Regions from separate parts of the Homo sapiens genome. Here region 2 is linked to region 1. Evidence: fine-mapped expression QTL. Tissue or cell type: monocytes. Region 1 holds a variant in brackets; the other region holds the start of a gene. All regions are shown on one strand. Distances are between the middles of the regions.

The links. PIP is the estimated chance that this variant, and not a neighbour inherited with it, causes the effect.
Region 2: WNT5B starts here. The variant in region 1 is fine-mapped to the expression of WNT5B in monocytes (Quach 2016, PIP 0.95).

Annotation. Positions count from the first base shown.
Region 1 is chr12:1,396,996-1,405,256 of GRCh38, reverse strand. The region is part of intron 16 of ERC1 (ELKS/RAB6-interacting/CAST family member 1); the gene reads right to left. Among named protein-coding and RNA genes, the nearest start is that of LINC00942, 99 kb to the left of the region's middle. The variant A/G (reference allele first, on the strand shown) is at 3,203.
Region 2 is chr12:1,624,752-1,632,751 of GRCh38, reverse strand. It overlaps WNT5B (Wnt family member 5B), which reads right to left and starts at 3,521. Exons shown (of 5, transcript NM_032642.3): 1 at 3,381-3,521; 2 at 1,318-1,454; 3 at 1-94. The coding sequence starts at 1,397. RefSeq lists an enhancer at 1,794-1,893 and silencers at 2,075-2,369, 2,324-2,383, 2,414-2,603.

The DNA.
Region 1 (8,261 bases):
TCTGGGAGGACCCCCAGAGACCTTTGCTATGGTCTGAATGTTTGTGTTCCCCCCAATTTTATATTATTTTATTTATATTTATTTATTTATTTATTTATTTATTTATTTATATTTTTTGAGCCGGAGTCTCGTTCTCTTGCCCAGGCTGGAATGCAGTGGCGAGATCTCAGCTCGCTGCAACTTTTGCCTCCTGGGCTCAAGCAATTCTCTTGCCTCAGACTCCCAAGTAGCTCGGATTAGAGGCACACACCACCACGCTGGCTATTTTTTTTGTATTTTTAGTAGAGACAGGGTTTTGCTATGCTGGCCTGGCTGGTCTCAAACTCCTGACCCCAAGTGATCAGCCTGCCTCAGCCTCCCAAAGTGCTGGGATTACAGGCATGAGCCACTGCGCCCGGCTCTCCCCACATTTAGATGTTGAAACTTAACCTTTGATTTGGTGGTATTATGAAATGGGCCTTTTGGAGATGATTAGGTCAGAGGGTGGAACCCTCATGAATGAGATTAGCATCCCTGTAAAAAAGGCCTGAGGGTACTATGCAATATACCCAGGGAACAAACCTGTGTATGCATCCCCCGAATCTAAAATAAAAGTTGAAAATAAAAAGAAAATAACGAGGAACAAGGTTCTATGGCCAAAGTTTGTACTTTGATTTGGGAGATGTAAATATCTAGTTCTATCACTGGTAGGAAACTGAACTCCTAAAGAGGACAGTGTCTCACTCAAAAGAGAAAATATGAAAATAATGTTTTTCTTCTGTTTTTGCTCTCCCAGCACACTTTGCTTGTGAGACCAACTATCGATTTTTTCATATAGAACTGTTATCTCCATTATCAAACTGGTGGCAAATAACATACTTTTTTTTTTTTTTGCAAACAGTAGTTGTTCAAAGGATTATTGCAAATGAATGAATAAGTAAATGGATGAGTAAATAAATGAATGAATAAATAAATGGATGAGTAAATAAATAAATGTATCCATTATACTTGGAAAAAGGCCCGAGGGAGCCCGTTTGCCCTTCTGCAGTGTGAAGATGCAGTGAAGCAGCATTATCTACGAAGCCGAGAGCAAGCCCTCATCAGACACCGAATCTGCTGCTGCCTTGATCTTGCACTTCTGGTCTCCAAAATGGTGAGCAATAAATTTCTATTGTTTATAAATTACTCAGTCTGAGTTATTTTGTTATAGCAGTCTGAATGGACTAAGACAATCTTGAAAAGATGTAGGCTAATTTTTCTTATGGCATGTGGTATTTCATGACAAAGTCTTCTGCAAAGCAGCTCTCAGAAAAAAGGAAAATAGAAGAAAGGAAAGAGGCATATACAGAAAGTGAGCGAAACATCTGTATCATGTCATTCAATTGGTTAAGAAACCTTTCCATGTTGACTTTAACAGGAATGTGGGTGAAAGTAGACTTGGCTAGTTATTTTCTTAGAACATGAGACAATCTTTAATATCTGATATCTAGCATAAGTTTAAAAACTTAAAAAGAAATCCTAATAAAGTACACACAAATCCATTTTCAAGGCAGAACGCATTTAAAGTACTTCTTAGGAGTGAGTACGTATGCCTGCCTGAAAAAAACTGATCCAAGTGGACAGATAAGACCAAAGATTCCTTATTTGATCCACGTCAGAGAATGAAAAAAACAGTTGTAAGAACTTACTTCTCCATTTCCAAAAAGACACGAAGATGATCAAAGTTTAGTGTTCCTAGGTCTAGTATGAAGAAACTTGGTGTGAAGTCTGTTCCCTGCATAGTTATGATGTTGAGCACTAAATATCTGACAGCTCACAGAGCATTAGATGTTACACAGATCATATAAATGACTCTGTGCTCTTAAGGGGCTCTCATAGTATGCTCTTCTCAAGATAAGACCAAAAAGCAAAAGGAGTAATTCCTTCATGTTTTACTGACATGAAAGATATTTTATATCCAAATGTTTTTCCTCTTGAACCGTGCCAGGTGCATGTGCAGGGAGATGAAACCCCTGGTCCCAACGACATAAAGAATAACGTTGTCTGAAGGAAGGAAGGGGGAAAAAAAAGGAAGAAGGGAAGAAGGAAGAAACTTGCTGAAATAGACTTCTTTGCTATCAATGTATATCTCCAGGTATACATACCCTCCCAGAGGAAAAAGGAGTTAGTTGTCTATTCTGTTAATTTTTTCTTCTACGACAAAAATGTCAATGTCCAAAATGTTAAAATAACTTGTTACAGAAACTACATTTCATAGAAGAATACATAAGCTAAGAGACAGGATAGGTTATCCAAACGCAGCTATTAAAAGAAAAAGTTTAAATTCTAATTAGATTTGTGTTTTAGTATTGATAAAAAAAATCTGAGAGTTCAGTTGCAGGTTCTATTAACCAGAATAAAAGCAGACTAATTAATTCTTTAGTAATAGAAGTCTGAAGGGACATCAGATTAAGTCACTGTTAAAATTATTATAATATCTGGTCTTTTCTTCATGAACAATCTGTCTCACTATGTATTTCACATCTAATTAAGTCATTAAATCCTCTCTAAGAGCTAGCTTTTAGTTTCACTGATCTTCTCTTACAGCTTGTTTTCTATTTCATTTAATTTGTTTTTATTTTCTTTGTTCTTTTGTGTGTGTGTGTGTGTGTGTGTGTGTGTGTTGGGGGTTACACAGATATTCTTTTTCTATTTCTTGATTTGGATGCTTAGCTCATTACTGTTCTTTCTTTTTTTCTTTCTCTTTCTTTTTTTTGAGACAGTCTCTCTCTCTGTCACCCAGGCTGGAGTGCAGTGGTGTGATCTCGGCTCACTACAACCTCCGGGTTCAAGCGATTCTCCTTTCTCAGCCTCCTGAGTAGCTGAGATTACAGATGCCCGCCACCATGCCCAGCTAACTTTTGTATTTTTAGTAGAGACGGGGTTTCATCATGTTGGCCAGGCTGGTTTTGAACTCCTGACCTCAAGTGATCCACCTGCCTTGGCCTCCCAAAGTGCTGGGATTACGGCGTGAGCCACCGTGCCCAGCCTTTTCATTTTCAATTTTATATATGTGTTAAGAGTATAAATTTTCCTCCAAGAACTGCTTTAGCAGCATCTCACAAATTTTGATATAAAGTGTTTTTCCCTGTTCTAAATATTTTGCAATTTCTCTTTTTTACAATATTTGCAATTTCCTTATTTTCTAATTTGCAAAATCTGTAATTTCCAGTTTTTTAAATGT[A/G]TACTTTCCTATTTTGCAATATTGGTCCTTCTGAATTTCCCCTATGGTCTTTCTCAAAACTCCTATCAGATGAATGTACCTTCTCAGTCTGTTTTCCATGTCTCCTAATCTCTCTTTGATATTTTCAATTTTGTTTTATCCTTCTGCACTGCATTTTGGATAATTTCGGCAGAATCTTCAAGTTCATTAATTCTCCTTTCATATACGTTAACTTGCCACTAAGTTTTTAATTGAATAACTAGATTTATTGATTATTTGGTAAATCTACGTGTACTTTTAAAAATACTCTTTTTTTTTTTTTTTTTTACCGCCCTCCCTTCAAAAATAGTCAATTTCCAAGCCAACATTTACTGAATACTTACTAAGTGCCAAGTATTCTGAGAGCTTTAGGTAATTTAATCCTCATAGCAACAATATGAAGTTGGTACAATTTGCATGTCAATTTTATTGAGGTACAGAGAGCCTAAATAACTTAGCGACATTCATATGATGAATAAGTCACAGGGCTAGAGCTCTAATACAAACAGTCTAGCTTCAGAGCCTGTTCTCCTTTTAAAACTAAAATAATTATATTTTATATGGAGAATTTCCAAACATACACCAGAGGAAAGAACAGAAAAAACCCATACATCCATGTCCTCCTTCAGAAACGATTCTACTGCTCTACCTGCTTCCTTTATCCTCCCTCCCCTTTATTTGCTACAGCATTTCTTCTTCTACTACTATGACTACTGCTACTATTAGTGCTACTTCTATTACTGCTTCTTCAATTTTTGAGAGAACTGTAAATTCACATGGTGTTTTAAAAAATACAAAAATAGGGCTGGGCGCGGTGGCTCACGCCTGTAATCCCAGCACTTTGGAAGGCTGAGACGGGCGGATCACAAGGTCAGGAGATGGAGACCATCCTGGCTAACACGTGAAACCCCGTCTCTACTAAAAATACAAAAAATTAGCCGGGCGCAGCGGTGGGCGTCTGTAGTCCCAGCTACTCGGGAGGCTGAGGCAGGAGAATGGCGTGAACCCGGGAGGTGGAGCTTGCAGTGAGCCCAGATCACGCCACTGCACTCCAGCCTGGGCGATAGAGCAAGACTCCGTCACAAAAAAAAAAAAAAAAAAAAAAAAAAAAAAAAAAAAATACAAAAATAGCCAAAACAATATTGAATGAGAAGAATAAAGTTAGGAAGACTCATACTTTCTGATTTCAGATCCTACAGTAAATAGTAGGTTTACCTACAGTGTGTTATCAGCATAAAGATGGACAAAGAAATCAATGAAACAAAATTGAGAGTCCAGAAACAAATCATCATTTTTTTATGGTCAACTGATTTCCAGTAAGGGTACCAAGACAATCTAATGGAGAAAGAATACTCTTTTCATCCCATGGTGTGGGACAAATAGAAATAGACATGCAAAGAAAATGATGTCAAACTCATTAAGTCTCAGTCTCAGAACATATAAAAGAATAAACTCAAAATGGGCCAAAGAGCTAAATGGAAGAGCTAAAACTATAAAACTCTTAGAACAAAACATAAGAGTAAATCTTTGAGGCCTGGGTTAGGCAGTGATTTCTTGGATAATATACCCAAAGAGCGAAAGCGGCAAAAGAAAAAAAAATAAATCGGAGCACATCAAAATTTATAAAATTTTATGCTGTAAACAGTATCAACAAGAAAGTGAAAAGAGAACGACAGGATGGGAGAACATATTTATAAATCATATATATGATAAAGGACTTGTGTCTAGAACTCTTACAACTCAATAATAAAAATACAAATACCCCAATTAAAAATGAGCAAGGGATTTGAATCTTTTCAATCAACAAAGAAGATTCACAAATAGGCAGTAAGCACAAGAAAAGATGTGCAACACCAATAGGGAAATGCGTATCAAAGCCACAGTGATCTACAGGAACAACGGAGAAGCAATACAATATAAAACAAAACAAACAAAACCCCATAATGAGATACCACATCACATCCACCAGGGTGGCTATTAAAAGTCAATAACAAGTGTTGGTGAGAATGTGTAGGGACGGTCATATATTGCTGGTGGGATTGTAGAGTGGTAAGGTCTCTTTGCAAAACATTTTGGTAGTTCCTTAAAATGGCAAACATACAATTACCATATGACTTAGCAATTCCAATCCTAGGTATATACTCAAGATAACTGAAAACGTGTTTCCATGCAAAAAAGCACCCACAAATGTTCACGGCATCATTATTTATTATAGTCAAAAAAGAGGAACAACCCAAATATCCAACAACTTATGAATGGATACATAAAATCTGGCATATCCATATAATGAGCTATTAGCCATAAAAAGGAATGAAGTACTGATACATGCTACAAGTATCAATGAACCTTGAAAACATGATGCCAAGTTAAAGAAGTCCTGCAAAAGGCAACATAGTATATTATTTCACTTATATGAAATCTCCAGAATAGGCAAATCTATATATAGAGAAAGTAGATCAGTGGTTGCCAGGCCTGGGGGAAAGGGACAATGGCTACATTTAACAATTTGAGCAGCAAAATCAATAATGCTTTCAATTTGTGAAAATGTATTTAATATATAAAAAGCGATGACACTGAAATAATACTAGAAAAAGATACTTTAAAAAATAGGGTATTGTAGTGATGGTTACACATTTCTGTGATTTACTAAACAATATGGAATGGCATATTTTAAACGGGTAAATTGCATGGGATGTGAATCATATCTCAATAAAGGTATATAAAATAAGCCAATGTGCAGCCATGTAAGTAAATAATGCTTTTGCTCTTAAAAAATATTAAGAGAGGGCAGGCGTGATGGCTCACACGTGTAATCCCAGCACTTTGGAATGCTGAGGTGGGAGGACTGCTTGAGCCTATAAGTTTGAGACCAGCCTGGGCAACATAACCAGACCCTGTATCTACAAAAAAATAAAAAAAAATTGCTGGGCATGATGTCACATGCCTGTGTGTAGTCCCAGGTACTTTGGAGGCTGAGGTGGGAGGATTGCTTGAGCCCAGAAGGTCAAGGCTGCCTTGGGTCATGATCGCACCATTGCTCTCCAGCCTGGTTGACAGAGTGAGACCTTGTTTCAACAAAAAAAAAAAAAAAAAAAAAAAAAAAAAAGTAGGAGAAAAGAAAATAAACTCATTTGTCAGCACTGAAGTTTACTAGGGAACTCATTACATAAACAAATGAGTAAATGAATAGATGTGTGCAAGGACAAAGCGTCCCTGCCCTCTGGAGGATACAGCAACAAGGTACCATCTTAAAAGTCAAAAGCGGCCCTTACCAGACAACCAAACCTGCTGGTGCCTTGATCTTAGACTTCCCAGTTCCAGAACTGTGAAAAAATAAATTTCTGTTCTTTATAATCTACCTACCTACCGACTTTGTTATAGCAGCATACCATACACAGACTAAGTGGGAAACCACAATCCGGCTGTGGGGTGTTTATTATTTATCATTTCTTCTAGTCTGGTTCAGTCAGAGATAGGAAATAAATATTTTTTTAAAAGGGAGAAAATTATTGGTTAACAGTAATGTTTTAAATTCAGATTTAAGATTACAGATCTCAGTCTTGAAGACTGGGTTTACTAAACTACTTTGATTTTATACTTTATATTTTTTTCTCTTATGCTGAAAAATTTTGGTTCCTAACAATAACATAATTACTTGTTATTTGTTTTCTCTAACAATATAATGCTTTTAAAATTCAAAACCAATACAATTACTATCAATATGCCTTCAGGATGAACTCTAAAATCTATTTGGGCTGGGCACGGTGGCTCACGTCTACAATTCCAGCACTTTGGGAGGCTGAGGAGGGAGGATCACTTGAGCCCAGGAGTTTGAGACCAGCCTGGGCAACATGGTGAAACCCCATCTCTACAAAAAATACAAAAACTAGCCAGACACGGTGGCATGTGCCCGCAGTCCCAGCTACTTGGGAGGCTGAGGTGGGAGGATCGATTGAGCCTGGGAGGTTGAGGCTGCAGTGAGTGGTGACTGTGCCCCTGCGCTCCAGCCTGGGAGAGAGTGAGACCACTAAAAAAAACTTCGCATTTTTGTTCTTTTACTTGGAGTTTATCCTACTGAGATGTACAGAGAAAAATCTGTATTATAAAGTTAGCTGAAATAATTATTTGCTCAATGTGAATGTCAACAATTTAATATATAATTAGATTCATTTGTTTCTGTTTGTTTTTAAATTTCAAGGACTGCTTTTTTCCTTTTTTCAGATCTAATTTTATTTTTGATTATGTAATACATTCATTTGATTCTAGAGTCAAAACTATATAACTAGGTATAATCACAGAAGGCTTGCTTCCACCCCTGTCTCCTCTATCCTGTTCCCTCCTTTTTAGAGGTAACTTTTTTGGGTAAATTTTTGATTTGTCTTTCAATTGTTTCTTCTTGCAATTATTAGCAATCATATACTCATATAATTGCACATGTTCCCCCTTTTCTTACATAAAAAGTAATATGTTAAATACATTATTCTGCATCTTGCTTTTTCATTTAACAGTATGTTCTGGGAATCGCTCCATATCAATAGAGATCTTTCTCATCCCTTTCTACAGCTGCACAGTATTCCACTCTGATGGATATACTATAATTGACAACAAATATCCCACTGTGGCACAACTGGGTTATTTTGAATCTGTTGCTATTATAAATATTATAGCAATGAATTTCCTTGTGTATATGTTATTTTGTATTTTTGAAGATGTGTCTGTGGGACCAATTTCTAGAAGTAAAGCTTCTGGGTCACAAAGTCAACGCACAGATAAGCAATGTTACTACATATTGCCAAACTGCCTCTATAAGAGGTCTACATTTTGCATTCCCACCAGGAGAGTATCAGAGTTCCCAATGTGCACAGCCTGCTTAATTGAGTGTGTTGTTAAATTCTCGATTTTGGTCACAAAGCACCTCAGCTTGCCATTATCTTACTATGAATGGGTAAGGACCATGTACATTTCTTTCTTTGTGATCTTCAGGTAGGAACTTCCCAGACAAGTAGTGACATAAATTTTTAGTCTAAACCTGGGGAAGGTA
Region 2 (8,000 bases), 230 kb before region 1:
CTGGCCAGGGGAGAGCCCGGGAAGCTGACTGCACACGGGCTGGGCACCGATGATAAACATCTCGGGTCTCTGCACCGGGTTCAAAGCTAATGACCTAGGACAGCAATCCAGAAAGGGGAAAAAAAGGCCCAGGAGTGAGCATACGCCTGTGTGCAGCATTAAGTCATTCATTCAACACATTTATTGAATGCGTCCCTGTGTACAAGGCCCTGGAAAGAAAAATTAGTAAATCAGAGTGCTGGCCTTCAAAGGACAAACTGAAGGAATCTGAGGCATGAACACAAAGGACATGCGAGATGCCAAATGCCCCAGACAGACTCTGGATATGCTTCTGGATCTGCTGTGATCAGATAGGAAAATAGCCCTTATGGCTGAAGAGAAGCCTTTATAAGGAAATGGCCAGAATTTGAACTGGATCTTAAGAATGGGGGTCAGGCAGATAAGAAGACGAGGGGTGGGGAGCAGCTCTTCATTTTAATAGAGGGCAAAAAGAGCCAAACCTCAACAGGAGAGCACAGGCCTCATTCAATGAGTAGGAGTGACTAGTTCAGTGCAGCCCAAGTACATGATAAGCCATGGAAAGCAATCAATCCTTTGCGTGGTACTCCCTTTGGGCCTTTAAAATCCAATCACTTTACATACATCACGATCTAGTCTACTTGTTTTCACTGCCATGTCTCACTTTGAGCTTCCCCTCATCCACTCTCCACCAGTTCAGAGGCTCTCCCTTTTGCTCATCATCTACCAGCCATATAGAGTGTTAGATGAGAAGGCTGCAGATTTGCTATCTGAGTAAAAATGCTAGTGGCAGAGACCATGCAAAATAGGTGGTGATCGCCTGCCATTTCCCTGTCAACTTGGCAATGACAACAGCCCTTAAAACATAAGAAGAAAGCCAGCCACCCATGGTGCTGTGAACCCCTCATCTGGCCTTCAGACTTATAAAAGAGGAATTCTATATCCTACCAGCAAAACACACAAAACAAAGGAACAAAAAACTACCAAGTATTGATATTCTTGTTGACCCAAGAGCAATTTCTAACAATTCATGGGCATGAGGGAAGGTCCAAGGAAAAGGAATGTGGACAGGATTAGAGAAAAAAATCAAATGAACGGAACCTTTATCCTCAGGGAACCCTTACAAAGATAAGGGTTGAGAGAGACACAGAGCGTTCTTAGTTTTCCTGGGATAAAAGAGGCCCTTAGTACTCCCAGGAATCAAGGTACTACCGTGACACACGGTGCCCTTCCTCCTCATCTCAGTCGCTGAAGGAGGCCTCCGGCTGTGCAGGCAGGACCTCAGCCCCTCTTACTCACCACCAGGAGTTGGCGTCTGTCAGAAGCTGAGCCCAGCTGGACAGCAGAGCAGCCGTGAACAGCAGCAGCAGGCTGGGCATGGTCGGCCTCAGCCCTCCCCAGTGCCCTGGGACTGACAGTTTCCAGAGTAGGGTTCCCTGGAGAAAACAGAAATGGAGAGTCAGTGTGGAAACTCAGCGGATAAGGGCAGACCAGGAGCCGGGGTGAGGCGGAGAAAGTTGCACTGATGCTTACGTGCTGCGTGTTCCCCACAAAGAAGCTCGGCCTCTTTCCAGCCTCCGCCTCCCACTGCTCATCTTCCCACCCTAGGACTTCTGTCTCTTACCCCAAACTGTGGGAACCCTGCACAGGACCTAATTTCCAAAGAAATAATGAGCTGAGAAACCACAAAGAGAAATGAAAACAAGTAATTTCAAGAGCGGAGCTTGCGGCGTTCCTCCGTTCGGCAGCCGGGAGGCCACTTCGGCTGTTGTAAAGCATACCTGTCCTTGCTGCAGAACATCCAAAGAAATGGGGCCCATCCTATCCACTCCCCCACGTGCCTACCTCTCATTCCAGCCCAGAGACTTATTTCTCTGACCCTCAGGCTCTCCTTTGTAGGATTAAAACATTTTGGTGAATTGGATTTACCTGCACCCAGGGAGGAGTCTCCCCTCTCCATCTGCGCCCTTCTCACCCTCAGCGGGTTTCCTAAGTCCCAACCCCTGCGTACAGATCAAGGACTTTTCACTTTCTCAAGGCAGCTTCTCTGAGAAATGTACAAGCCACGCCGCGAACCGCCCGCCCGGAAAGCTCTGGCGGCTGAGGTGGTGCCTCCCTAGGCGGCCCCTGCCCCTCCCGGCACCGTGGTCCTCGAGGGCGGCACCGAGTACCTTGCCCAGCAGCTGCACCGGGGACACTGCCGACGCCAGGCGGCAGCTCTGGCATCAAATGCCTGAGCTGAGGACGCATCTTCCAGATGCCACAGCCCTTCCCTGCTGGCTCCCGGGCCTCCCGCCTCTTGGCCTCCTGCCTGCTGTAACCCACGCCTGTTCCTCTATCCGCCCCCGAGAGCCCCTGTCCCCAGGCCCTGGGACCCGCAGCAGGTCAGTGCTGCTAGAGCGAGCCTGCGCCTCGGGACACACGGCCCCTGCGGCTCCCCCGCGGTCCTCCGGGGCCCCCGTCTGGGCGTGACCCGCGCCCCCAGCGGCCTCCCCGGGGCCCCGGACCTGACGAGCGCAGCCCCGCGCGCCCCGGCTCACTGCGCCACTCTCGCGCGTCGGCGTCCCCAGGCTCCCCGGGAGGGGGCGGCGGGTGCTTCGGGTCATCAGCCCGGGAAGTATTTTTGTCCTGGGGCCGCCAGGAGAGGACAGTGGCCCGAGCAGGGTCCAGGAGAGCTGGGACACAGCCCTTCCCCAAGCCCCCTTTTGATTTTCCTTCTCGAAGCCTCGGCTGGGGCGGGGGCACCAACAGGCAGGTGTGTGGGGCCGGCAGGGGGCAGATCAAAGAAGACACTTGCTCCTTCCCCTTTGTCATGCAGAGCCAGCTCGGAAGTGAGCCGGCCCCCAGCCCGGGACTAACAGCTTCCACGCCCGACTCCCCTCAGACCCCCCCTCCTCTGGAGGATGCCCCTCCCCCTCTCCTCTCCCCCCATAAATCCTCCTCGTCCCCCGGGGCAGAAGGTCTGTGAATGCACCGGCTGGAACCACGAGAGATGGAGCAGAGATAGGGCTGGCACCAGGAGCTAATGGTTTTATGGAGGGGAGGCGACCAGGTCCCGAGTAGGGAGGACGAGAGAAAAGCTTCAAAGCGTTTCCTTGTCCAAATATCCTTAACTCCACCTACCAGTCCTTCCCGGGGTTGCAGAGCTAGGGCCGCCCGTGCCCTCCTGCTTCTCCAGCCTCCTCCCCGCGGCCCCGAAGCCTCCTGCCCAGCCTATGCCCAGCCCGTGCCCAGCCCACCACCCTGCCGCCCGCAACACCTACTCTCCCTGGGGACTTTGATCCTCACACATTTCCACCACCAGATAGCGGAGTTCTTCCTCCCCGCCTGTGACACTTGTCCCTCACACCAGTGCCTCTCACCTCTGTCACCCGTCCATCAGGCTCCAGTGGAATCTCTCTGGTCCTGCAGTTCCTAGGTTCAAACTAGGCTACATTGGGGGCCACCGTTTCCGAGCCAAAGACAGGCCTGGGTGCCTGCTAATGGTCACTGTGGCTGTGACTGCCCCCAGGACAGGCTGACACGGTAACTAGAGCCAGACTTCCCAGGAGCTGCTAATCCCGCCCTCAGTGCCTTATAAACATATATGGAGACAAGAATCACTCCCGCAGCTGTTTCTACTCCATCCCCCGCCCCGGGCTTTCCACGAGGCGGCTCTCAGCCCATTAAAAATGTTTTTTTTTTTAAAAATTGCCCCCCAAAATGGCTCTAACATGTGCAGTGGCTTCTTTCTCTGACTTCCAGATGTGTGGTACCTGAAACTGAACTCCCCCATACACACATATGCACGCGCGCGTGCACACACACACACACAACACACACACCAGCCCCCTCAGGACGCTCTCTGTCCTGGCAGACAGATGCGAGCCAATTCTTGAGTGGCCATAGAACTGAAGCCAGGCAGCTGTTTGCCCTCTCTTACATTCTTGTGCTGGGGTGGGCTGGGGTGGGAGGAGAAAGGACCCCTTAGAAAGGTAAATGCTGGCGACTGGTTTCATCAGCATGGGCAGAATGGAAATTTCTTGCCTCAACCCGACTGGGAAGGCAGGAAGCTGTATGGGGGCTGACGGTTTTGTGTTAATGAGCAGGTCACATTGGGACCCCTGTTTGTGGGTCACTAGTGAGATTTATAGCAGGATTCAACCAGGGGAGGCTCTCCTTGTGTAGGAAGAAAGATCTGGTAAATGCCCAACAGGCAGGAAAAGGCCTTTGCAATAACTACAGATTTCCCCAGGGTCTAAAAAGATTCCCCTTCCTAAGAGGCAAGTGTCAATTCAAACATACCAAACACAGTAGTTAAGAATGCGGGGCTCTTCGGGGGGCCAAGGTGGGCAGATCACCTGAGGTCAGGAGTTCGAGACCAGCCCGGCCAACATGGTGAAAGCTCACCTGTAATAAAAAAGTATAAAAATTAGCCAGATGTGGTGGCACATGCCTGCAGTCGCAGCTACTTGGGAGGCTGAGGCAGGAGAATCGCTTGAACCTGGGAGGTGGAGGTTGCAGTGAGCCAAGATAGCACAACTGCACTCCAGCCGGGTGACAGAGCAAGACTCCATCTCAAAAAAAAAAAAAAGTGGGAGTCAGGGTCTCTATTCTTTAGTAGTAGTGACTAGGAGGCTGTGGGGAGGGAAAGATGCAAAATTCCCAATCAGGATCCTTCCAGAAGCCAGAATGAGCTGGTCAGACATCTGCTCTGTTCCTCCTCTTCATTCATCCATGCAGCCATTCAATACATTCATTAATCAAATGAATTACACCCTGGGTGCCTAATATGTGCCAGTTACTGCTCTAAGTGCCAGAGACATGGCAGTGAACAAACAAATGTATCATAAGTTAGGTCCAGTGAATACTATGAGGAAAATAAAGAGGGGACCAGAATCAAGAATGGGAAGGGGTGGTAGCATACTTGATGTAGGGTTCTTGGGAAGACTACTCTCTGAAATATCTGTGCCCCCAAAACCACTGTGTAGGCAGGATGGTGGGAGGGGATGTAACGATGCTACACCTCCAAGACCCCCTCTAGAGCACATCCAAGGTCCCTGCTGAGATGGCACTGTCCCACTTCACCATCACAACCAAAGAGGTGCGTGTTGGAAGACAGGAACTCCAAGATCTCCTCCTTTTTCTGCTAGGACTCAGTCACTCACTTTCATTTCCTTAAGGGGCCATGTCCATCCAGCCTAGAGTTAAGAGACCAAAAAGAGAGACCGGGACAGGTAAAGCTGAGACCCCAAGCAACTCTGTGCTTTCCACCATACTTCAGAGCAGTGCCTGAAACAACATCTCTGCCCCACAGGATGAGGGGTTGATTTCAGGTCATTAGCCATTCACACAAACCCACTGATATCTAGAACTGACTTCCCCAGCACCCAGGGACTCAAGCATCTCAAGACTCCTGCAGGAAATGGAGCCACCTCCCACATCTGCCCCTCTCCTCAGACAGGCACCGTCACATCCAGAAACCTGTCCAGAAATAGCCACGAGCCTAGGTGGGGACCTCTTCAAGGGTGCTGAGCAGGCCTCCTTTGTCACTGAGGCCACACCTTCCAAGATGCCTTCCCTGACCATCCCTCCCAGAGAAGGCCCCCATCGCCATTATTCTACTTCTAGCTTCTTGCATGTTTTAGCCGCAGCATTTAATGTGCCATGGAATAGTGTGGCGTGCTCATCTGTTGTGGTTTTGTTTCTTTCCCTCATATGCTCTGGAAACGGTCTTATTTACCATTTTTCTCCCCAGTGGATAGGATAGTACACAGGGGTATGTGGGAGTTGCTAGAAAAATATTTGTTGACTGAAAGAAAAGAAAAGCACTCTTACTTGGTCACCCAGTGGGGAGCTATAGAATGTGTAATTTAAAAATACATTTGGCGGCCGGGCGCAGTGGCTCACAACTGTAACCCCAGCACTTTGGGAGGCCGAGGCGGGCAGATCATGAGGTCAGGAGATCGAGACCATCCTGGCTAACACGGTGAAACCCCGTCTCTACTGAAAATACAAAAAAATTAGCCCAGTGTGGTGGCGGGCGCCTGTAGTCCCAGCTACTCAGGAGGCTGAGGCAGGAGAATGGCGTGAACCTGGGAGGCGGAGCGTGCAGTGGGTCAAGATCGTGCCACTGCACTCCAGCCTGGGCGATAGAGTGAGACTCCGTCTGAAAAAAAAAAAAATACACTTGGCCTGGAGTAGTGGCTCACGCCTGTAATCCCAGCACTTTGCGAGGCCGAGGCAGGTGGATTACCCGAGGTCAGGAGTTCGAGACCAGCCTGATCAACATGGAGAAACCCTGTCTCTACTAAAAATACAAAATTAGCCAGGCACGGTGGCACATACCTGTAATCCCAGCTACTCGGGAGGCTGAGGCAGGAGAATTGCTTGAACTCGGGAGGTGGAGGTTGCAGTGAGCTGAGACTGCGCCATTGCACTCCAGCCTGGGCAACAAGAGTGAAACTCTGTCTCAAAAAAAAAAAAATACACTTGTGGCCAGGTGCAGTAGCTCACACCTATAATCCCAGCACTTTGAGAGGCTGAGGTGGGAGGCTTGCTTGAGCCCAGGAGTTCAAGACCAGCCTAGGCAACACAGTGAGACCCTGTCTCTACAAAAAAATCTAAAGTTAGCCGAGCATGGTGGTGCCTGGGAGGCTGAGGCCAGAGGATCGCTTGAGCCCAGGAGTTCAAGGCTGTAGTGAGTCGTGATTGTGCTATTGCACTTCAGCGTGGGTGACAGATTGAGACCCTGCCTCAAAAAAAAAAAAAAAAAGAGAGAGAAAAAAAACAGGCAGGGTGCGGTGGCTCATGCCTGTAATCCTAGCGCTTCGGGAGGCTGAGGCAGGTGGATCACTTGAGGTCAGGAGTTTGAGACCAGCCTGGCCAACATGGCAACACCTATCTCTACTAAAAATACAAAAATTAGCTGGGCGTGGTGATGGGTGCCTGTAATTCCAGATACTTGGGAGGCTGAGGCAGGAGAATCGCTTGAACCTGGGAAGTGGAGCTTGCAGTGAGCCGAGATTGCACCACTGCACTCCAGCCTGTGTGACAAAGTGAGACTCCGTCTCAAAAAAAAGAGAAAAAACAAAAGAATAAAAGTACATTTGCAATTTTGTTAACATTCCTGGCATAACAGGGTAAACCATCTTAGCAGTCTTTGGAAAGGAAATGCTTCCCTTTGTGAACTCCTGGCTGCATTGCTGTTGAAGGAGGGGCCTCAGACTGGATGATTTCCATGGGACAGGGGAGGGGCAGGTGGAGGAGGAGCAGGCCTTGCTAGCTGGAGTCCTGTGGCTTCTCTCCCTTTGGCCACTCATTTCTCGTACTGTAGAGAAAGACTGTTTATGGACCTCAGCACAATAGACAAATACCTCCTAAAATGTACATCAGGTTCACTCATTTCCTTCCCAATTTCCAGGTGAGTACTCACCCTTCTGGCATCTGAACACCAGAGTAGTTCTTCGTGGTCTCACTCACAAGTGCACATAGACACAATACCAGTTTTCCCTAAAATACTAATTTTACATCATAATATTCCCCTATTTGAAAACGTATAGTGGTTCCCAGTTCTTTATTTCCAATGTGGCCTCATCTTACCTCTCATTGTTTTCCTGAATTTCCCAACATGAAGTCTCCTTTTCCAATGTCCTTCTACTCCTAGAACAAACCCCACTTTTCCCCCAAGACCTCATTCTGATCCTCTTCCCAAGGAAGCATTCTCCTCTGCTCTGCAGCAATCCAGATATTAAACTACTTTCACATCCAGGCTCAAGATTCACTCCCTCCATAAAACTGTGCTTGATTAACCCCACCCCATGAGAATCTCATTCTCATGGGTTGAGACCGAAGAGGTCTCAACCTCTTCGGCCCTTATGAATCCATGTATCTGGTCTGCACCTCCCTACCCCACTTATGCTGCCTTGGGCTGTTTCTCAGGTGAAGTATATACTTCTTACTTCTCTAGTAGATCAAATGCTTCCTAAAGGTTCAAACTTACC